Homo sapiens: one gene and its partners. The protein of the gene in region 5 purifies or fractionates together with the protein of the main gene of each other region. This does not show direct contact. Each region holds a gene or a part of one and is shown on either strand. Other genes may lie near its edges. The genes, in order: CCM2, ABHD10, KATNA1, NADK, INPP5K, EDC3 and C10orf88.

Region 1 (3,753 bases), on a different chromosome or scaffold from region 5:
GCCCACTGCCTTGACCTGTGTACTCCCTCTCTTCACTCAGAGCCCAACTCAGAGCCATGCCCCCGGGGAGCCCCAGGACCAGGCCAAGCTGACCACCCTGCATGCCCAGTCAGCTCTCCTCTCATCATCATCATCATCACTTACATTCCTCTGTTCAAGGACAGGGACCCACACACACGGCATGGACTAGGTTTCCTGAAACGTGTGTGGGATGGAGGGTCGGGGAAGCCACCCGCTCACATACCACATTCTTTCGCAGCTGCTTCCCTGAATCTGTGGATGTGGGTGGTGCATCACCCCACAGCAAGACCATCAGTGAGAGCGAGCTGAGCGCCAGCGCCACTGAGCTGCTGCAGGACTACATGCTGACGGTAGGCCTCCGCTGCAGGGACGCTGGGCTGCATGAGGGAGGGGGTGCCCCAGGGAGGATGGGGGGAAGGGGAGGAGGAGGAGGAGCAGTGCAGGGCAGGCTGCAGTGAGTGAGGTCACCTAGAGCACTCTTGGTCAATTTTGCTGACATCACTGCCTTTTCCTGGGGATAGTCTAGGAGAGCATCAGTCAGTGGGGCTGAGTTGGGAGTGCTGTGGCCGTCAGGGCTGGACTGTGGGCCTGTGCTTGGGTCCTGGGGGAGGGGAGGGAACGGTGGCCCCTGCAAGGCCACATGGCCAGACATTTTTATCCTCCCCATCTTATATAGTTCTGTCATTGCAAACTCAAGTCTTCCTGATTTGCCTGTGTGCCTGTGTGTAGCCTAAGGGCACAGGCATTGGCCCCGGGCCAGGTTGCCAACTTCCACCCTGCCCTGCTGGCTCCTGTCCCTCCCATGCACTCTGTGTTCCAGCTCAGGAGAGTGGAGCTGCCCGGGTGCCTTGGTCTCCTCTGGGTGGCCCCGTGCCAGGTCTGGTAGGATGGGGACACATTGTGGTCATTCTGATGCCCCAGCCTGTGCAGAGGTGAAGCCAGAGACAGCTGGTGCTCTGGCTGGGGTTAGTGGCTGTGGCAAGGTGGGCCCGACTGCCGACTCTTGCCTACTGTGCCCAGCCCCCTATCTGGCTCTGCTCTCTTGCAGCTGCGCACCAAGCTGTCATCACAGGAGATCCAGCAGTTTGCAGCACTGCTGCACGAGTACCGCAATGGGGCCTCTATCCACGAGTTCTGCATCAACCTGCGGCAGCTCTACGGGGACAGCCGCAAGTTCCTGCTGCTTGGTGAGTGGGCCCTGGAAAGAGGGTGGCTTGTCCAAACCTGGCTTGGAGAGGCTGATCCCTCCTGGGAATGTGCACACGGACCCCTCAGTGGGTGCAGCAGGGGCTCCATCAGGGATGGGAGATTTGAACCAGAGATGGCATGAGAGCAGAGTCCAGAGATCGGGGAATCTGCTGTGATTAGTCAGAAGGGCTTTTCCCAGGTACTGTTGGGGGCCCACCGACAGGCCTTCATTCTCCTGGGAACTCAAGCTGAGCTGGGTGGGCCCTGCCAGGAAGTAGCAGAGATCCCCCAGGAGCAGGGCTGGGAGTGAACACAACCCTGAGATTTAGGAAAACAGTGCTGGAGGAGCCAGAGAGGCATGGGTTTTGGTGAATGTGTAGGACTTCAAGGCGGAAGGACCAGCGTTTGCCAAGACCCCTAAAATGCTCGGCACATTAGGTCAGTGCGGCTAGAGGGCTGTGTGGTCTGAGCAGCAGAGTTGGATGTTGGCCCCACACCTCTCAGGGGCGGTGACTTAGCTGTGGTTTCCCTCTGCCGACACTTAGAACACAGCAAGTTTGCGGTAATGTGTTGCTAGTAGCCAGTTGAAGGCTTCTGGGTCCTGGCCTGTTTTCCCTGCAAACCAAGGAAGGTGGGTTTGTTAACCATCGTACCGACCTGGCAGTGGCAAACGTGGATTGCCTGCCCAGGGCTCCCCGCTCTTAGGAGCGTGAAGGGCTGGAGGCTGGGGCAGCCTGTCTGTACAATAGGTTCTGTCTAAGCAGTGCCTGCCCCTTCTGTGCTGGGCCCTGCGTTGCCTCCTGGCATGGGACTCTGTCTGCCCCTCCACATCGGGGAGTAGAGATTCTGAGAGACACACTAGGCTTCCCAAATAAGAGGGCAGCCCTCTGAGTTGGGACAGTCACCTAGGTCATGGCAGGGAAACTGGACTTTGGCATGAGGCCTGCCTCTGAGGACTGCACCCTTGTTGCCGGGTGCCAGCAGGTGGCTTTGAGCACTGCTCTGGGCCTCAGCTTTCCCCACTGTAAAATGGGTCCTTTGTGAGGACTAATAGAGAATGAGAGGAGGCCACAGGTTCTTGGCCTGTGCTGGTGCCTTGAGGCCAGGGAGTGTGCATGTGGCAGAGGCAGTAAGCTGTCAGGGCCAGCAGCAGTGTCTGTCAAGAGTTGAGGTTTTAGCCAAACTGTCTGGCCCCAGGAAGCATGATTTCAACCAGGATGCTAGATGCAGTGAGCATGGCATCAGGGTCCCCAAGGCCATGCACCAGGGGCAGCTGTGGCCCTGTCAGGGGGCTTTGAGCCCTGAGAGAAGAGCTGAGTGGGCTGAGCCGAACTGGAGGTGCCATGCTGGGTGTTGTGTGTCTGCAGGTCTGAGGCCCTTCATCCCTGAGAAGGACAGCCAGCACTTCGAGAACTTCCTGGAGACCATTGGCGTGAAGGATGGCCGCGGCATCATCACTGACAGCTTTGGCAGGCACCGGCGGGCCCTGAGCACCACATCCAGTTCCACCACCAATGGGAACAGGGCCACGGGCAGCTCTGATGACCGGTCGGCACCCTCAGAGGGGGATGAGTGGGACCGCATGATCTCGGACATCAGCAGCGACATTGAGGCGCTGGGCTGCAGCATGGACCAGGACTCAGCATGATGGACAGTGGATGGGGGGGCACCCACACCTTCCGCGCAGTCGTCATAGGCCTTCCCAGAAGGAGCTGCCCAGACCTGCGTGTCAGCCCTTGGTGGTGGCCAGGGAGAGGCGCCCGGTGCAGATGGCCCCGGGCGGCCCAGGTCCTCTACTGTGAAGGAGCAGGGAGCTGCCGAGGGACACGAGCCTCAGTGCGGGGTGGAAGGCTCTTTGCCTTGTCCACCAGGGCTCAGCCAAGCCCTGCAGTGTGTCCCCGCTCGGGGAGGGCCCGGCCGAGCGGGCAGGGAGAGCCAGTCCTGTCGGCTGGGCCCTTGGACGGCTGTCAGTTTTGCACATGATGTTCCTATTGTAACTCTCAGAGACCTTAAAAAGAAGTTTACTGCAATGTGAATAATTTAATCTCTGGTTGCCAAGCATGTTTCTGATCCAGTTGGGTGAAAGCCATCGGTGCCAGGAGGGGTGTCCGCTCTAGCCTCTGTCCCTGGGTCCCCATCTGCCCTGCAGCACCTGGGACTCGGCAGTGGTCCCTGGGGGCTGGGGTGGAGGAGGCAACAGGCTCTTGTGCCACAGGAAGGACTTGATTTGGACTTGAGCAGTGTGGATGTGGGGCAGGAGCGGGTGTTCTGAGGCCTTTCGTGGGCAGCGTGTGTGAGGGTAGCGTGTGTGGCATGTGTTGGGGGCACCTTGATCTTTACATCCTGTGCACTGAATCCTTCAAGGTCACTGGCTGTGCCCCGCACCCCCCCTCCCCCCAACCCCATGCTGCAGGTTTTTTCCTCAAGCAGCCTGCACTACCCCGTGGAACAGAAATGCTCTCTGAGATCTCGTCACCTTGGAGCCTGGGGGCTGGGTCTTCAGAGGCCAGTGTGCAACTCTGCCGACCCTCCCTGTGCCGTCAT
Region 2 (2,421 bases), on a different chromosome or scaffold from region 5:
TATAAACTCCTTCTTCAGAGTATTTTGATGGCATGCTCCACACACCTTTCATCTCTACTTCCTTTTTTAGCTATTGGAAAAAGAAAGAAAAATAAAAGTATTTGTGACTTTAGGCAACATTAACACATGCAATAGTTTTAAGTAATCTAATGAAAGCAGTTCTTGAATAAGAGGATAGAGATAACAAAAGTATAACAATAATAATTATCAATAATTACTACATGCAAGGTACTGTGATGGGTATTTTATACATATTATTCCATAAGATTCTGATAATAATTCTGTTATTATTCTATTTTTATAAAAGAGGATATTATGGTTTAGATAAATGAAATACTGTGTGCAACAGTTCAGGGCTAGGCTACTAACTGTTATGGCTAAGACTCAAACTTAAATTTAAATTTATTTAATTTTATCATACACTATCTCAAATCAGATGTTGCTTCACCCCAACTGAAAAGAAAAATGAAGAGGGAGAAAAGCACTACAATTTCTTGGAATCAGTCCAGGTATCATTCATATTTAAATAAAATCAAATCTTAGAATAAACATTGTTTAGATTTCAAAATTGTAAACCTAAAAGTGCTTATAAGTAGCTAAAATGGATATGGCATAGGGAAAGAAGAGAAAGAATCAAACACAGAACTAAGAATAAAAAAATAAGAGTAATTACATTGTAACAATCATACACATACTCATGCAATTTTAGGCTGAATGTAAAGAAATATAGTTTTTCCTTCCAGAGTCCTATAAAAGAGAAAAAATTTGATTTTTGTTCTGGATGACAAAGAAGTCTTCCACATACTTCCTGAAAGCCAAACAATAATATCTGTATATTTATTCCCTTAAAATGAAATATACATGTCCTTTGACTTTTTGAGAACTCTTATTTTTTATATAATTTATCTTAATTTTTCTAAAAAAATTAGAATTTTGTATAATGAGTAACATGCAGTCATTATAGAAAACATAAAAATAATTAAAGAAATAAATCACCCATAATCCTATCTTATGGAGAGAAAAACCATTAATATATGGCTTATTTCCTTCCAATATTTGTCTATATGTGTTTTGGTTTTTGTGTAATATGTAAAATACATACATATTACACATTCATATACAGTTTTCTATGCTGTTTATTTAGTACATATATTTCTGGGTTTAAAAAATTCTATGAAAAGGTTTTAAATGCTGCACAGCAGTCCACCATAATTGACTTAATTAGTTTGACCATCTCATACTGTGGTATTGTCATGAACACTTTTGAGCATAAAAGTTTATTTATATATAATAGATTATTGGAAAGATGATCACAGCTTAAAACTAAAACAAAAATCAAGCTATGAATAGTTTCAAGACTGTTACAATCATATAATATTAAGGGCATTTCTAGAAAAATGGAATGGACATCTTATCAAAAATTTTAAAAAATAAGGAAAGAAAAGCTACACATATTTGAAAAATTTAAAGTTTCAACAAATATACTATGATTTTCCCATGTTTAAAATTGTTAATTTATTGCAAATGTAAAAAGGAAAACAAGAACTTAAAAAATATGTATGACATAATATAATCTATATGTACTTAGGCTTTAATGTATTTTTAATTCCAAAAAGACTTAATAATTCAGTAAAAAAAAAACTGTACTTCTAAATATGTCTCCAAATGATTTAAAATTAATGAAATTCTACAAAACTATAAAATGTATATAAATCTATATCAATATCATGGCATTCTCTGTATTAAAACAACATATGAACCAAATATTTAAAGTAAAGATGACATTTAGCTATCCTCAAGCTACTCAGGATTGTTTCTGAATTTGTAAATACTTCAGCAGATAGAACTTAGTCCCACTGGTTATTAGCTGAAGTGGAGGCTTTGCTAATTAAGGCGACACTGAATTAATAATAGTTTCATTTTAAGCATCCCTGGCCCCCAACTAGCTCTGCTACCTGCCACTGAATTGAATGAAAATGGTCCATCTGAAGAACAAAGTTAACTTTATAAAATGTTGTATGTCTCAAGTCCTCAAGAACAAAAAGTTCAGAAACAGCAAAGACATTACCCAAAGAAAATGTACAATATATTAAGTTCTACATCAACAAAACTTATCAAGGCAATGTGGTTCAGAAGCTTACATTCCCAACAGCTGTGCATCATGTCTGAGGCCCTCTAGTGTCCAAAGAAGGTGATAATGATTAGAGTCAGTTAAAGAGGATGGTCAAGTTCTTAGAGAAGAAATGAGAAATGCTGGGCTTACTATTCCCAGGGTTATAAAAGATAGTAAAAATCTCCACATCTGCTCCGTTGACATTGTTAGGGCTAGCTGTTTATGTGGAGAAGAGATAGCGGTCTTAGTGTTGGTGCTCTTTCCTTATACATGCTTTTAAGTTAACCAAGGGCTCAACATGCTTCTGT
Region 3 (3,500 bases), on a different chromosome or scaffold from region 5:
ATTTACCAGACTCAAAAAAGCAATGATACTAAGTATTGGCAAGGATTTGGGAAAAAGGAAATCTTTACATCAATTTGCAGGAATAAACTGGCATAGTCATTTTGGAGTGCAATCTGGCAGTACTTGGGGAAATTATGTATGCATGTATATGTACATAGACACACACATACACACACATATATATGTATATATACACCCCATGACCCAGCAATCCCACTCTTGTGTAAATCTTCCAGAGAAAGTCTCACACAGATCCACAAAGGAACTTGGTTTTGGACATTAATGACAGAAATCTTTGAGAAATCAAGTAGAGTCAATCTATTTATTCCCTGCTAGGGGAAATATGGTGGATACAGACCACATGGTACCATGTAGCAGACAGAAGCAATGAATAAAATTTACATATAGCAACATGGATGGATCATCAAAATACAGGGTTGGCTAAAAAAAGGTCTCAGACATAGAACAAGATCTAAATCCCAATGTCATTTTATAAATTAAAAATACATATGCTATATAAAATACTCATTTTTAAAGGATGCATACATATCCAAGAAAGTACCTTAAATATATTAGAGAGTCTATGGAAGGTGAGGAGGAAAATATGTGAGTGGAGAAATTGCTTATGACAAGTAGGAGAGAAACAAAAAATAAATATAACAAAAGAAGGGCCTTATATCCATGGATAATCATAGGGAGCCTCTAAGATGGCACTCAATGACCTTTGCCTCTTGGTATCTGTACCCTTATATAATTACTACCCCTTGAATGTGTGCCTGTAACAAATAACATAATACCATTTCCGAGATTAGACTATGACTTGCATCTTGCTTGCTGTCTCTTGCTGGCCCCACTCAAATGGAATACCAGCTCCACAGAGTGAGCTGCCTGGGCAGAGGCTCATGTGGCAAAGAGCTGAGGCAGGATCCAGGCCAACAATCAGTGAGGAACTGAGACCCTCAGTCCACCAGCCCCTGAGGAACTGAATCCTGCCAACAACCATGTGAGTGAGATCAGAAGTGAATCTTTCCTCACTAGAGCCTTGAGATGACTACAGGCCTGGCCAATACCTGATCACAGCTCTGAGAAACACCCTGAATCTAAGGCATCCAGCTAAGTCATGCCCAAATTCCTGACCCAGTGAAACAGTGAAAGAGATAAAAAATGTCTGTTGTTTTAAGTCACCAAGTTTTGGGATAATCTGTTATGAAGCAATATAGCTATGAACTAAGGTCTATGAGTAACTCAAGACTGGGCATCTGAGCTCCAAAAGAAAAGGAATAAAATCCTATCACCTAAATCTTGCCTCCCTGGATTCATGACCACTGATCATATTCTATCTTAATAAAAGCCTAAAGGCCAAGGACCATATCTCTCTGTTATTTACTGATACATCTCTAGCACCTAGAACCATGTCCTCAAATGTAGATCTCAATCAACCTTTGAATGACTGAATACTGCCTAGTTGTTGTCCTTTTTTTTTTTTTTGAGACAGGGTCTCATTCTGCAGCCCAGGCTGGAGTGCAGTGGTGCCATTACAGCTCACTGCAGCCTTGATCTTCTGGGCTCAACTGATCCTGAGTAGCTGGGACCACAGATGTGTACCACCACACCCAGCTAATATATATATATATTTTTTTTTTGGTATGTTTTGTAGAGATGGGGATTTCACCATGTTGCCCAGGCTGGTCTTGAACTCCTGGGCTCAAGCGATCAGCCCACCTTAGCCTCCCAAAGTGCTAGGATTACAGGCGTGAGCCACCATGCCTGGCCAGGTTTTTGTTGTAACTACCAAGAGTTCGTAACCTTGTCCAGTTCCTGACCCTCAGCATGGTCACATTCTTGATCCTCAGCTCATCCCTTCCAAGCTGGGATTACAGCTTGATTCTTGTGTGATTACTTCTGCCCTGAAGCCATCCATGCCCTACAGAGACACCTAGTCTGGGCAAGGGTGTTAGAAAAGTATAATTGGGACCCGCTGCTAAAAGTATATAGTTGTTCTAGATGAGCTTGGATGTCAAAAGCCTTTCATGTCTTTTGACATGAAAGCCTCTCTCCCTCTTTTCCTTAATAGTCTCCCTGGAGATCTTTCTTCCCATTTTCCCACTAAAAAAAATCTAAAATAGTCAGGCATGGTGGTTCACGCCTGTAATCCTAGTACTTTGGGGTGCCAAGGTGGGAGGATTGCTTGAGCCCAGGAGTTCAAGACCAGCCTGGCCAACATAGTGAAACCCTGTCTCTACAAAAAATACAAAAAATTAGCTGGGCATGACAGGGCACACCTGTAGTCCCAGCTACCAGGAGGTTGAGGTGGGAGGATCACCCAAGCCCAGGAGGTCAAAGATGCAATGAGCTGTGATCACACCACTGCACTCTAGCCTGGGTAAAAGAGTAAGGCTCTGTATCAAAAAAATAAAATAAAATAAAATAAAAATAAATTTAAATTAAGTTGTTACTTATATATAGGTGGTCCTCGTTTTTTTCTTGAGGGCCATGATTCAACGGCCCAAAACTCATACAAGTCCCTCCAAGCCTTCTTTAAAGGTTCCATGTTTTGAACTCTTTCTAGTCAGATAAAATTCTTTAGAAGCCAATGAATTGATATTTTCTAACAAACATGAATGTAAAGTCTAATCCAAGGCCACATTAACAAATGACTTGAAAAATCCCTGATTATCAAAGAAACAATGTGCTTGCAGAAAATAGTATTAAAGCACTCTTAGTTCCCTAATTGTTAGCCGAAAATAATTTTCCCCATTCCCTTATTACTCTCTAAGCCCAAAACATCCTTCTCGAATGTCACAACTGTAAATTTATGAAATTATCCCAATTTTCAACAATATATCTTTATCATTGCTAAAATTCCACTGCAGGAAGACTAGAAACTGGCTGTATTAAGCACAATATCTGGCAATATTTGAAGAATTGAATCCATTTGAAATAAAAAGCTGGCCGCGCGCAGTGGCTCACGCCTGTAATCACAGCACTTTGGGAGGCCGAGGCAGGTGGATCACCAGGTCAGATCAAGACCATCCTGGCTAACACAGTGAAACCCCATCTCTACTAAAAATACAAAAAATTAGCCGGGCGTGGTGGCCAGCGCCTGTAGTCCCAGCTACTTGGGAGGCTGAGGCAGGAGAATGGCATGAACCGGGAGGCAGAGCGTGCAAGTGAGCCAAGCTCGCGCCACTGCACTCCAGCCTGGGCGACAGAGCAAGACTCCATCTCAAAAAACAAAAAACAAAAAAAAAAAAAAGAAAGAAAAAAAAGCTGACTGACTCAGTGTAAGCACCATGAACTATAAACACAATCTATTGGTTCAACATTAATAGAACACTTATAAAGATGAGATTGCCCCAAAATTCAGGCTCTTGGTTACACAGATTATTAGAGAGAAGGATAACCATACACTATGCCTGCTTTATTCACAGCAAGTTTTTCCTTTACATTATTCTAACAGAACCACCCTTTTGCTTACATGCCTTGAGTATTTATGAGTT
Region 4 (3,500 bases), on a different chromosome or scaffold from region 5:
AACACCGGGCACAGTGGTCGGGGTCAGAGCCAGCAAAGCGCGGGTGGCTGTGTCAGGGCTGCCACGGACTTTTAAACCTGTGATTTTTACTGTGAGAGTGAGTGAGGTTAAAGTCCGTTCATGCAGGGAGGTAGTGAGCTGTGTGCAGGGGGGGAAGCGGGTCCTTGAGGGGTCCTGGGCTCCCGTGGGGCCAGAAACTGTGTGCAGAGGATCCTAGGGACAGAGTCACCATGTCAACTGGTTTGGGTTTTCGTGGGGGCCTGAGGAGGGCATCAAGCAAAGAGTGGCCCAGCCATGGGCTTTCGTGGTCATTTCTGCCCCACCAGCGTCACTGAGGAGCCAGGCAGGCAAGTGGCCGGGGGCTGGGAAGGGCTGTGGTGCGTGCACTTGGGTCAGCGTGGTGCCCGGGTGGGGGTTGTGGGCCTGAGCCTGCGTGTGATGGGCCAAGCAGGTGAGAGGTGGTCACTCCGGACCCTACTGACCCCTGACCCTGTCTCTGTGGCGCGACCCTAGGCCCTGTGAGCCCGTGGCCACCGAGCACGTTTCCCTGGGAGGTGAAAACACCTTTTTAAAGATTTTTTTTTTTATTTTCTAAGTCATACACCTTTTCCGCAAGAGGGAGATCGCAGCTGGTGTGAACTCTTTTCTCCTCCCCTAAAGGCACATTCAGGACCCCGCGAGCCAGCGGCTGACGTGGAACAAGTCCCCAAAGAGCGTCCTTGTCATCAAGAAGATGAGAGATGCCAGCCTACTGCAGCCGTTCAAGGAGCTCTGCACGCACCTCATGGAGGCACGCGGGGCAGGGGGGAAGGGGGCCTGGGGTGCACATGGAGTTGGGGGGGCCTCCATCCACATCACCGCCCCGTGAGACCATGGGAACCACCTCAAGTGCTGGGCAACGGCTGCTTGTCTGGAACTGGGGACTGAGTGGGGATCTGCCGGGTGTCTGGGTTTGTGTGTGCCGCCATGGCAAGCACCAGACTGGGTGACCAACAATGAGCTGGTGGGCTCGTGGCCCTGGAGGCCGGGAAGTCCGAGATCAAGGGGCCACATCTGACGTGGGCCTTCCTGCTGTGTCTTCTCTTCAGAAGAGCAGGCGTGGGGGTTGCGGCGCCCAGGAAAGCCACTCCTGAAATAACAGCCTTAGTCAATTCCTGAGAGGGAGCCCCCTCCGCCCAGTCATCTCTTAAAGGTCCTGCTTCCTCCTGGCGCGTTGGTGATGAAGTTTCAGCGTGAGCGTGGGGGGGCGGGCATGCAGGCCACGATGCCAGGTCTCTGACCACAGCGCCCGTGAGTCGGGAACCTCCCTGCAGGAGGGTGGGGTCTGCAGGTGGAATGAGCAGGTTGGCACTTTGCTTCCAGGAGAACATGATCGTGTATGTGGAAAAGAAAGTGCTAGAAGACCCTGCCATCGCCAGCGATGAAAGCTTTGGGGCAGTGAAGAAGAAATTCTGTACCTTTCGAGAAGGTGGGCTGTCAGCAGCTCTGTCCTTGGTTTCTCCAGCACAGTTCCCCGCCCCATTGGAAGCTTCTGGCACTGTTGCCCTTGTCATTGGTGTCTGCGCACTGCGCCACAGAGGGGCCACTGTGTGACAGCCTCTTCTTGGTTTTGCTTTGTGTTTCCTAGATTATGATGACATTTCCAATCAGATAGACTTCATCATCTGCCTGGGGGGAGACGGGACGCTGCTGTACGCTTCCTCGCTTTTCCAGGTGAAGCGCTGACATTTCCAGACCCACACCAGGTTCTAGTCTAGGTGCTGCGTAACGAGGGGCTCACAAGCATGGCTTCCATTGCTTTTCACCCCTTTATACGAGAGCAGTCACCTAGAGCGGCCAGCACTGAGGCCCATGGTGGCAGCCCGGTGGGGTGCGACGGTGGGGCCAGGGGCAGTGTGGACACAGTGCTACGGCTGGGGGTGGCCAGCGCCCGCCTGGGACAGCAGGGAGTGGCGCAGGGTGGTGGGTCCTGGGAAACGACCTCGCCTACTGGCCCATCCCCTCTGGGCCTCCCTTGAGCTCCTCTTCCTGGTTTCTCAGCAGCACAGCTCTCCCCTGGGGCTGTAGGGCCACGCTGTGTGGGGGACCCTGGCTCTGCCCTTGGCCCACTGCATGTTGGTGACACCGGAAATGCCCGCAGCCCGCCCTGCTTTTCTCCCCATCTCCCCATTAGCACCTGTGGGGCGCGAGGCTCCGACCCCAAGGCTGCCTCCCACCCGCCCTCGCCAGCTCCCCCAGCCCTCCGTGCCCAGGGGGCCGCTCAGCCCTGCCACCTTTGTTCCTCACCAGCTCCCCACACCAACCTTGGCCCTGGTGGCCCGGCCCACCCTGGCCTGCGACGTCCCCCTCCGCTTGTCCACATGGCCAGTCCCTCCTGCAGAGGGTCGGGGTGCTGTCCCCACAGAGCTGGGTCCCTCCTGAGGTGCTGCTGGAAAGCTGGGTGGTGCGGGGGTGCACGGCGTGGGCACTGAGTGACCTCTCCGTCGGCTCACAGGGCAGCGTCCCTCCGGTCATGGCCTTCCACCTGGGCTCCCTGGGCTTCCTGACCCCATTCAGCTTTGAGAACTTTCAGTCCCAAGTTACTCAGGTGATAGAGGGTGAGTTGGAATGTTCTGGAGCCCACAGGAGCTCTGATCATGGCGCTGCTGTCTCGCTTGCTTGCGGGGGGTTTATTTTCATTTAATGATGCATGGAGCAACATTTAAAGGTTTCAAGATTCAGGGATTTCTAAATCTTGAGTGGTTCAAACCTTTTACTGACACTGAGAAGTTTCAGCAGATCACAGGTTGAAGCTGCCATGTGTGTTGGGCAGAAGTGAGCTGATTCTCACTCTCAGAAGGCACAGAAGTGTCGGCCGGGCGCGGTGGCTCACGCCTGTCATCCCAGCACTGTGGGAGGTCGAGGCGGGCGGATCACGAGGTCAAGAGATGAGACCATCCTGGCCAACACGGTGAAACCCCGTCTCTACTAAAAATACAAAAATTAGCTGGGCGTGGTGGTGCGCACCCGTAGTTCCAGCTACTTGGGAGGCTGAGGCAGGAGAATCACTTGAACCTGGGAGGCAGAGGTTGCAGTGAGCCAAGATCACACCACTGCATTCCAGCCTGGGTGACAGAGTGAGACTCCATCTCAAAATAAAAAGAAAAAGGCACAGAAGTGTGTCAACTTGGGAGAAGAAAGAGCCCTCTGACTCCCACTGGCCTCCCTGGGGTGGGGCCCCTGACCCCACTGACTTCCCTGATGCATGCCCTCTGACTCCTGCTGGACCTCAGGGAACGCAGCTGTTGTTCTCCGGAGTCGGCTGAAGGTCAGGGTGGTGAAGGAGCTCCGGGGGAAGAAGACGGCCGTGCACAATGGGCTGGGTGAGAACGGCTCGCAGGCTGCAGGCCTGGACATGGATGTCGGGAAGCAGGCCATGCAGTACCAGGTGAGTGGAGGCGCCTCGGCCTCGGTGAGGGGCCCAGGGTGGGGCGACTTCGGTCCCAGGGATGAGGACCTTC
Region 5 (2,768 bases):
ATTCCCTCCTCTGAGGCCAAGTGTTCCTCACTGTGCCCTTCCAACATAGTGGGGAAGGTGGGGCACCCAGAGGGGGTGGGCATGGAACTCCACTGGGCTGCTCCAACGGACCTTGGCTGGCCATCAGGAAAGAGGGCCGAACACCAGTCGGCGGGTGGCTGGCCCTGTCGGAATCCCATGGGGCCCAGCGCTGGGGGGTAGGAATGGCGGAGAGCAGAGGCACGGCTGAGAGGCTTAAGGAGGCGGCCAGGCAGCTGCTCTCAGGCCTCCCGCCTTATCTGACCCAAAGCCCCACATGGGGGGATGCTCTGGTGAGAACAGCTGTGAACGTGCAAGAACACAACGCAGATACCAGCGGGGGCCAGGCACGGTGGCTCACACCCATAATCCCAACAGTTTGGGAGGATCACTTGAGCCCAGGAGTTCGAGACTAGCCTGGGCAACATAGTGAAACCCTGTGTCTACAAAAAATACATAACAGCCAGGCGTGGTGGCGTGCACCTGTAGTCCCGCTACTAGGGAGGCTGAGGTGGAAGGATCAATCACTTGAGCCCAGGAGGTGGAGGCTTCAGTGAGCTATGATACCGCCACTGCACTCCAGCCTGGGCGGCAGAACGAGACCCTAACACACACACACACACGCCAGTAAACCTGTATGAAAACGTGAAGGCTGAGGGGCAGCAGCCTGAAGGAGGCCAACACCACCTTGGTCATTCAGATAGCAAGATACAAGGACGCAGGGATGGAGGGAGCGCCCGTTGCAACTTGATCCAGATAGATTTAGGACAAATAAAAGAAGTCCTACTTCTCACATTGGGTAATAAGCCTAATGGAACTCATTAGCCCCAAGGGAGAATACCCAAAGGAAATGGAAACCTTTTCACAAAGGGTTTGAACACGGTTTTGACAGACAGAGCCATCAACGGCTCCTAAGAGGAGCTGGGATATCCGACCTGGCAGGAAAGGCAATCATGGCCTCCACAGGTCTCCCCTGGGGGACTGGCTGACATTCGAATCCAGGGATGGAGGGCTTGGGGATGTGGCCAGCATAGCTATTCCTCTGGCAAGTATCAGGCAGCCCAGAAGTTCACCTCCAAGTCGAACGTGCCGGAGACAGGCTTGTGGTCGCTGATGCCGTACGTCATGTGGCTGCTGTAGCCCCTCAGAGACAAGGAGAAGTGTGACGCCGGCGGTATGGGAGTGTCGGGGCCAGCACAGGGCTGCCGCTTCAGCCTCCACAGGATGCGATCGGTCCATGCAGGCTTGCGTTTTTTCTCACTGCAGGGGCAGGGGGCATAAAGAGGAAGAATGGGGAAAGAAGAAAGGGTTGGCTAAGAGCAGAAATGAGCCCACATGAGCTTGCTGGAGCCCCTAACTCCAGCAACTACTGGCAGCCACAGACCCCCGGGGCCAGAGCCGGAGGGAGCAAGGCAGCAGGCAGGAAGGTGCCTAACAGAATCCAAAGTATGCCAGCACTTGTCAGACTTAGCCAGGACCCTCTGTATGTCTAGCTCATGTTTTTATGGATCAAATTGTGACTCAGAAACATTCCATTTCAAAGCTTTGCTTCTTTCTTGAGCAAAAGCAGCAGTGGATCAAAGCAGCTGAGGTTTGAGATTCTGAGGCTGGACACACCTGAGCTTGTATTTGGCTGCCCTGCATACTAGAAGTATGCCTCAGGAAAGGGAAGGGAAGCATTTAGGAAATGCTTACCAGAGGATGCCTGTGATCAGTACTGTTACCACACCTTTTTTTAAATTTAATTTTATTTTTTTAAAGAGACAGGGTCTTGCTCTGTCATGCAGGCTGGAGTGCAGTGGTGACATCACAGCTTACTGTAGCCTCAAACTACTGGGCTCAGGCGATCCCACCTCAGCCTCCTGAGTGGCTGGGACGGTAAGTGCGTGGCACTATGCCTGGCTAATTTTTAAACATTTTTTTGTAAAGACAGTATGTTTCCCAGCCTAGTTTTGAACTGCTGGCCTCAAAGGATCTTCCCATCTCAGCTTCCCAAAGTGTTGGGATTAGAAGGCATGGACCACTGTGCCTGGGTGTATCATGCTCTCTTTACAGGTGGAGAAACTGAGACTTAGCTTAGAGGGGAAGCACCTTTCCCAAAGTCACAAGGTACTAAGTGGTGGAGCCAGGATTCAGGGCCAGCCAGCATGACCACAGAGCATGTGCTCTTAACCACCAAACTAAACTAACCTCTCTCAGGCCTCAACTTCCTCGCCTGCCAGTGGAGGGAATAACAGTAGTTACCATGAAGGGTTGCTAGGATGAGTCAATGAGATAAAGTACATAAAATGTTTAGCACAGTGCTTGGTGCAAAACGAGCTCGCCATGCACACTGGCCTTTATGATTTCCTCTCAAGAGTCGACTGAGAGGCCGCGCGCGGTGCTCACGCCTGTAATCCAAGCACTTTGGGAGGCCAGGGTGGGTGGATCATGAGGTCAGGAGATCGAGACCATCCTGACTCTCTACTAAAAGTACAAACATTAGCCAGGCATGGTGGCAGGTGCCTGTAATCCCAGCTACTCGGGAGGCTGAGGCAAGATAATTGCTTGAAGCTGGCAGGCGGAGGTTGCAGTGAGCTGAGATCATACCACGGCACTCTAGCCTGGGCGACAGAGCAAGACTCTATCTCCAAAAAAAAAGGAGTCGACTGAGAGACCTCCCACCTGTTCTTCACTTGCCAGTTTCCCTGAGGGGTTTGGAAAAGGTAATACGCTCCGGAGACAAAATGCATTCCTCCTCTAGGTAACTG
Region 6 (3,500 bases), on a different chromosome or scaffold from region 5:
TCTACTAAAAATACAAAATTGGCCGGGCGCAGTGGCTCACGCCTGTAATCCCAGCACTTTGGAAGGCTGAGGCAGGTGGATCACAAGGTCAGGAGTTCGAGACCAGCCTGACCAACAAGGTGAAACCCCATCTCTACTAAAAATACAAAAATTAGCCAAATGCGGTGGCATGTTCCTGTAATCCCAGTTACTCAGGAGGCTGAAGCAGGAGAATCGCTTGAACCCGGGAGGCGGAGGATGCAGTGGGCTGAGATCGTGCCATTGCACTCCAGCCTGGGCAACGAGAACAAGACTCGGTCTCAAAAAAAAAAAATTAGCCGGGCATGGTGGTGCATGCCTGTAATCCCAGCTACTTGGGAGGCTGAGGCAGGGGAGTCACTTGAAATTGGGAGGCGAAGGTTGCAGTGAGCTGAGATCACACCATTGCACTCCAGCCTGGGCAACAAGAACAAGACTCCATCTCAAAAAAAATTAAATAGGCCAGCCACGGTGGCTCACTCCTATAATCCCAGCACTTTCAGAGGCCGAGGCAGGTGGATCACCTGAGGAGTTTGAGACCAGCCTGGCCAACATGGTGAAACCCCATCTCTACTAAAAATACAAAAATTAGCCAGGTGTGGTGGTGGGTGCCTGTAATCCCAGCTATTTAGGAGGCTGAGGTGGGAAAACCACTTGAACCCAAGACGCAGAGGATACAGTGAGCAGAAATTGCGCCACTGCACTCCAGCCTGCTAACAAGAGCAAGACTTTGTCTCAAAATAAATACATAAATGAAGGGAAAGGGGCAAAAAAGCATATACAGCACTCCTCCAGGCCAGCCGCAATGGCTCACGCCTATAATCCCAGCACTTTGGGAGGCCGACGTGGACGGCATGGTGGCATGCACCTGTAATCCCAGCTACTCAGGAGGCTGACAGGATAACTGCTTGAACCCAAGAGGCGGAGCCTGCAGTGAGCCGACACCGCACCACTGCACTCCAGCCTGGGCAACAGAGCAAGACTCCGTCTAGAAAAAAATAAAAAATAAATAAAAATAAAGCACTCCTGGCTGGGTGCAGTGGCTCACAGTTGTAATTCCAGGAGTTTGGGAAGCCAAGGCAGGAGCATCACTTGAGTCCAGGAATTCAAGACCAGGCTGGGCAACACAGCAAGACCCTGTCTCAAAAAAAAAAACAAAAAACAGTATGCCCCATTAGAAACACTAAGTCTGAAAGAGTCCAGCTCTAGGGATTAATCAAACTCTAGATAGTTCTCTAGTGATCTAACTGAGCCAGTATCATAAAACTATGCGGACAGAACCGAAGATTAAAAGAACAATGAATTAGCAGGCTCATACAGGCTTTTTTTTGTTACATTTATTATAGAATGAAACAGAGCCTTGCTCTGTCGCCCAGGCTAGAGTGCAGTGGCGCAATCTTGGCTCACTGCAACTTCTGCCTCCCAGGTTCAATCAGGCAATTCTCCTTCCTCAGCCTCCTGAGTAGCTGGGACTACAGGCGCCCGCCACCACACCCAGCTAATTTTTGTATTTTTAGTAGAGATGGGGTTTCACCATGTTGGCCAGACTGATCTCGAACTCCTGCCTTCTGGTGATCTGCTCACCTCAGCCTCTGCACTAGGATTACAGGCATGAGCCACTGTGCCTGGCCCTTGGGTAAATTTTCAATGCAACACAATTTCAACAATAATGATGATGGTAAAAAAGCACAAAATACACACATTTTAGGCTTCTTTTCCCTTCCTGATCAACCTTTGCCTAATGTCACAAAAGCATGAGTTTCCTTTCCTATCATTTATAATCCATCATAATTCTACTCAGATGCTTAGATAGATGCAGAATAAAAAGCACCAGAAATTAACCAGATATGAAAAGGCTTTTACTGTTTTATTTAACATATATCTTTAAGACACTGATGTTGTGCATTCAAGTTTATATTATGGTAGTAGTAACTGAATAGAATTTTTAACACTTTGAAAATGTGGATACTCGTTTATAAGTGTTCTTCTATGTAGTTAATATTAATAGAAACTTTTAAAAATATAACCACTGAATGTGTAACAAACTTCCCTTTCCTCAGAAACTTCCCTTGGTAAAATAGCATTATTCAAAACTCCTCAAACAGGTTTATTCTATAAAGAAAATTATGCTATTTACAGAAAACAGTAAATCTAAAACAAGTACAGTGCCCATCAACTGGGTTCCTAATCGGACTAGGGAAGGGGCTCCATCAATTATACAGCTAACACCTCCACGTCAAAAGAAGTACAGGAGATACAGGAGCTACAAGGAACCAATCTTGTCTTTTATTTTCTACTTTTCTATCAAGGTATAACATATACAGTAAGTCAGTCTACATATTTTAAGTGTACACCTCCCTGAAATTTTACATATCAATTCACCCATGTGACCACCACTCAAAACAAGACAGACTATTTCCAACACCTCAAAAGGCTCCATTGTGTCCTCCTACAGGTAGTTATTATTCTGACATCTATCATGAAAGATTATTTGAGCCTGATTTTGAGCTTCACATAAACAGAATCATAAAGGTTCTCTTTCAGAGTGTTTGTCTTCTTTTGCTCAAAAGTACATCTGTGAGGCCAGGCATGGTGGCTCATGCCTGTAATCCCAGCACTTTGGGAGGCCACGGCGGGTGGATCACTTGAGGTCAAGAGTTCAATACCAATCTAGCCAACATGGCAAAACCCTGTCTCTACTAAAAATACAAAAAATTAGCTGGGCGTGGTGGCACATGCCTGTAATCCCAGCTACTCAGGAGGCTGAGGCACAAGAATCGCTTGAACTGGGGAGGCGGAGGTTGCAGTGAGCCAAGATCCTGCTACTGCACTCCAGTATGGGTGACAGAGCGAGATGCTGTCTCAAAAAAAAAAAAAAAAAAAGTACATTTGTGAGATTCATCCCCATTGTTGCATGTATCAGAAGTTTATTCTTTCTCATAGCTGTGCTGTTTTCTGTAAGCATGCCTCAATGTATTTATCCATTCTACTGCTGATACATAGTTGGGTTATTTCTAGTTCTGACTTATTACAAATAATATTCTTAAACTGTATACAGTATATTTCTGCGATGGACAAATACATCCATTTCTACTGGGCATATAACACAGGAAGTCATGTTATATTTATGACTTTATTAGGAACCACTGAACAGTTTTCCAAAGTGGTTGTACCATTTTGTATTACCATCTACATTTATACAACCCACCATACGTGAGTTCTTTCTGCTCCTCATCTTGCCAAAACTTGGTACTATTGTTCTCTTCAACTTACTCATTCTGGTGGGGTGCAATGGTTTTGGTATTTTCTTAAACATACTTCTTATTTACTCTTGCTTCATTGATACTGTTATTCTCCCAATAAATTATTCCTAAAATTGTAATGACTACTGAATTCAGAGATGTTGTGAATTACTATTCAGTCAAGAACTTGCTACCAAAGTTCATTTAGTCTTATTTGTCTTCCTTCTCCCTCCATTTCTT
Region 7 (3,500 bases), on a different chromosome or scaffold from region 5:
AGCCTCCACTGTTAACATGCTATTAAAAATTTTGAAGAAACTTAAATATCCATGAATAGGTAACTGCATAATATTCATAAAACCATAGAAAGCTGTATTTATTGATATCCTTTCAAGTGAAAAATGTTCCTGAGCAACATATGCAGTATGAAAGCATTTAGAGAGAACTGTGTCCATATACTTACAAAGATATGTGTATGTGTATATGTATAACTACATATATTCTGTATACACACAATAGAGATTTCTGAAAAAATAATAGTTTATCTTTAAATATATTGTAGGATTTAGGAAAGTATGAATTTCCTATACCTTTTTGCTTTTTAATTTTTTTGTATCACCTTTAATAATCAGAAAGAAATTAAATAATAAAGTCATTTTTATTTTGAAGGAGAAAAAAGCAAGAGTATAACTCCTAAATAACTGAATATGTTTTCTTTGAGAAAATGGGTCATATCCTTTCATTCAGATAACATTAAATGACAATCATATGCTACACCCTTTGATATAGAATTCCTATTCAAGAATTCTAAATTGCTAAAGCAAAAGCAAATCAAAGCCAGCAAACTGAACTTCAAATAGAAGGAAATAAAAAATAATCTTAATACTTATTGAGAAATCACAAAGGTTTGGATTGCATTTCAGACTCACAAAACTTGGCGTGTTGAACTTTAATCAAACTTTCGAGAAAACAAGTAATTCCAAGGCACAGGTAAGCCAGAGAGAAGCCAAAACTTCTGAGGTCCTTCCTTTCCCCCAAGAGAAGTCCTGCCCAAACAACATGTGTGATCACACCACTTACACGGAAGGAGTTGATTTGGTCATGAAACATTCCCATTTTATGTGCAGAAAGTTACACAGCTTATATGACATTCTCTATGCCTTAGAATGTATAGATGCCTAGTTTGTCATCAATAAGCAATCCTAGAGAACCAGGTACATCCTGTAAGAATCACTCCATAAATAAGGACTTTTCTTACTAGGAAGGAAGTCTTCCATTAGCATGTTTAAAAGGACACAGAACTGTTTATCACCTTCTTTCTTCCCCAGGGTGTCCCAGAAATGTCCCTGCATTAGTGGTGAGAAGAAAGTAAGTTATTGTACAGTGTACATAGCAGTAACCCATGAGTGTTGGCTGAGGGTGGGGTGGCATGGGGGAGAGCCTTCTGTGTTGCTACATGCATAAAAAAACTCTACAAGGATACACGCCAAACTGTTAGCTGTGTATCCTCTGGGGTATAGAATGACAGCTGGAAAACATTTTTAATTTTTACCTAACACTTCTGTATTGGTTAAAATTCATGGCAAAGAAAAATTATTTATAAATAAAACTATAAAAATTTAAAGACACAGCCAAAATAAAAATATATCTAGTTTCATTTTTTCCTAGTGTCAAGATTTTAAAATAATCAGACAGTAAACTAATTAATATCCTCTAATCGTTACCAAAATTTGTTCACAAACAATTGCTTCCTTTTTAAAATCTTCCATTAAAAGAGTTATTATCATGTAATCCAGCACATAAACAGAACCAAAGACAAAAACCACATGATTATCTCAATAGATGCAGAAAAGGCCTTTGACAAAATTCAACAACCCTTCATGCTAAAAACTCTCAATAAATTAGGTATTGATAGGACATATCTCAAAATAATAAGAGCTATCTATGACAAACCCACAGCCAATATCATACTGAATGGACAAAAACTGGAAGCATTCCCTTTGAAAACTGGCACAAGATAGGGATGCCCTCTCTCACCACTCCTATTCAACATAGTGTTGGAAGTTCTGGCCAGGGCAATTAGGCAGGAGAAGGAAATAAAGGGTATTCAATTAGGAAAAGAGGAAGTCAAATTGTCCCTGTTTGCAGATGACATGATTGTATATCTAGAAAACCCCATCGTCTCAGCCCAAAATCTCCTTAAGCTGATAAGCAACTTCAGCAAAGTCTCAGGATACAAAATCAATGTACAAAAATCACAAGCATTCTTATACACTAACAACAGACAAACAGAGAGCCAAATCATGAGTGAACTCCCATTCACAATTGCTTCAAAGAGAATAAAATACCTAGGAATCCAGCTTACAAGGGATGTGAAGGACCTCTTCAAGGAGAACTACAAACCACTGCTCAAGGAAATAAAAGAGGATACAAACAAATGGAAGAACATTCCATGCTCATGGGTAGGAAGAATCAATATCGTGAAAATGGCCATACTGCCCAAGGTAATTTACAGATTCAATGCCATCCCCATCAAGCTACCAATGACTTTCTTCACAGAATTGGAAAAACTATTTTAAAGTTCATATGGAACCAAAAAAGAGCCCGCATCGCCAAGTCAATCCTAAGCCAAAAGAACAAAGCTGGAGGCATCACACTGCCTGACTTCAAACTATACTACAAGGCTACAGTAACCAAAACAGCATGGTACTGGTACCAAAACAGAGATATAGATCAATGGAACAGAACAGAGCCCTCAGAAATAACGCCGCATATCTACAACTATCTGATCTTTGACAAACCTGAGAAAAACAAGCAATGGGGAAAGGATTCCCTATTTAATAAATGGTGCTGGGAAAACTGGCTAGCCATATGTAGAAAGCTGAAACTGGATCCCTTCCTTACACCTTATACAAAAATCAACTCAAGATGGATTAAAGACTTAAACGTTAGACCTAAAACCATAAAAACCCTAGAAGAAAACCTAGGCATTACCATTCAGGACATAGGCATGGGCAAGGACTTCATGTCTAAAACACCAAAAGCAATGGCAACAAAAGCCAAAATTGACAAATGGGATCTAATTAAACTAAACAGCTTCTGCACAGCAAAAGAAACTACCATCAGAGTGAACAGGCAACCTACAGAATGGGAGAAAATTTTTGCAACCTACTCATCTGACAAAGGGCTAATATCCAGAATCTGCAATGAACTCAAACAAATTTACAAGAAAAAAACAAACAACCCCATCAAAAAGTAGGCAAAGGACATGAACAGACACTTCTCAAAAGAAGACATTTATGCAGCCAAAAAACACATGAAAAAATGCTCACCATCACTGGCCATCAGAGAAACGCAAATCAAAACCACAATGAGATACCATTTCACACCAGTTAGAATGGCAATCATTAAAAAGTCAGGAAACAGCAGGTGCTGGAGAGAATGTGGAGAAATAGGAACACTTTTACACTGTTGGTGGGACTGTAAACTAGTTCAACCATTGTGGAAGTCAGTGTGGCGATTCCTCAGGGATCTAGAACTAGAAATACCATTTGACCCAGCCATCCCATTACTGGGTATATACCCAAAGGATTATAAATCATGCTGCTCTAAAGACACATGCACACATATATTTATTGTGGCATTATTCACAATAGCAAAGACTTGGAACCAACCCAAATGTCCAACAATGATAGACTGGATTAAGAAAATGTGGCACATATACACCATGGAATACTATGCAGCCATAAAAAATGGTGAGTTCATGTCCTTTGTAGGG

Evidence for each region.
Region 1: the proteins of INPP5K (region 5) and CCM2 purify together in Homo sapiens (co-immunoprecipitation; one large-scale study listed by IntAct). This does not show direct contact.
Region 2: the proteins of INPP5K (region 5) and ABHD10 purify together in Homo sapiens (affinity purification with mass spectrometry; 2 studies listed by BioGRID and IntAct, with this or other methods). This does not show direct contact.
Region 3: the proteins of INPP5K (region 5) and KATNA1 purify together in Homo sapiens (affinity purification with mass spectrometry; 2 studies listed by BioGRID and IntAct, with this or other methods). This does not show direct contact.
Region 4: the proteins of INPP5K (region 5) and NADK purify together in Homo sapiens (co-immunoprecipitation; one large-scale study listed by IntAct). This does not show direct contact.
Region 6: the proteins of INPP5K (region 5) and EDC3 purify together in Homo sapiens (co-immunoprecipitation; one large-scale study listed by IntAct). This does not show direct contact.
Region 7: the proteins of INPP5K (region 5) and C10orf88 purify together in Homo sapiens (co-immunoprecipitation; one large-scale study listed by IntAct). This does not show direct contact.

The regions. Positions count from the first base shown.
Region 1 is NC_000007.14:45,073,201-45,076,953, forward strand, and holds the end of CCM2 (cerebral cavernous malformations 2 protein), read left to right. Parts: intron 1-259; coding exon 260-371; intron 372-1,069; coding exon 1,070-1,208; intron 1,209-2,576; coding exon 2,577-2,857; 3' UTR 2,858-3,253; downstream 3,254-3,753. UniProt on the Homo sapiens protein: Component of the CCM signaling pathway which is a crucial regulator of heart and vessel formation and integrity. May act through the stabilization of endothelial cell junctions. May function as a scaffold protein for MAP2K3-MAP3K3 signaling.
Region 2 is NC_000003.12:111,989,026-111,991,446, reverse strand, and holds part of ABHD10 (palmitoyl-protein thioesterase ABHD10, mitochondrial isoform 1 precursor), read right to left. Parts: intron 748-2,421; coding exon of another isoform or gene 706-747; exon of another isoform or gene 696-705; intron 71-695; coding exon 1-70. UniProt on the Homo sapiens protein: Acts as an acyl-protein thioesterase that hydrolyzes fatty acids from acylated residues in proteins.
Region 3 is NC_000006.12:149,642,215-149,645,714, forward strand, and holds part of KATNA1 (katanin p60 ATPase-containing subunit A1), read right to left. Parts: intron 1-3,500. UniProt on the Homo sapiens protein: Catalytic subunit of a complex which severs microtubules in an ATP-dependent manner. Microtubule severing may promote rapid reorganization of cellular microtubule arrays and the release of microtubules from the centrosome following nucleation.
Region 4 is NC_000001.11:1,754,471-1,757,970, reverse strand, and holds part of NADK (NAD kinase), read left to right. Parts: intron 1-660; coding exon 661-790; coding exon of another isoform or gene 791-864; intron 865-1,088; exon of another isoform or gene 1,089-1,192; intron 1,193-1,313; coding exon of another isoform or gene 1,314-1,362; coding exon 1,363-1,468; intron 1,469-1,627; coding exon 1,628-1,713; intron 1,714-2,494; coding exon 2,495-2,597; intron 2,598-3,272; coding exon 3,273-3,427; intron 3,428-3,500.
Region 5 is NC_000017.11:1,496,845-1,499,612, forward strand, and holds part of INPP5K (inositol polyphosphate 5-phosphatase K), read right to left. Parts: intron 1,279-2,768; coding exon 1,092-1,278; intron 1-1,091. UniProt on the Homo sapiens protein: Inositol 5-phosphatase which acts on inositol 1,4,5-trisphosphate, inositol 1,3,4,5-tetrakisphosphate, phosphatidylinositol 4,5-bisphosphate and phosphatidylinositol 3,4,5-trisphosphate.
Region 6 is NC_000015.10:74,686,025-74,689,524, forward strand, and holds part of EDC3 (enhancer of mRNA-decapping protein 3), read right to left. Parts: intron 1,156-3,500; exon of another isoform or gene 1,067-1,155; intron 1-1,066. UniProt on the Homo sapiens protein: Binds single-stranded RNA. Involved in the process of mRNA degradation and in the positive regulation of mRNA decapping. May play a role in spermiogenesis and oogenesis.
Region 7 is NC_000010.11:122,940,728-122,944,227, forward strand, and holds part of C10orf88 (ATPase PAAT), read right to left. Parts: intron 1-3,500. UniProt on the Homo sapiens protein: ATPase that regulates mitochondrial ABC transporters ABCB7, ABCB8/MITOSUR and ABCB10. Regulates mitochondrial ferric concentration and heme biosynthesis and plays a role in the maintenance of mitochondrial homeostasis and cell survival.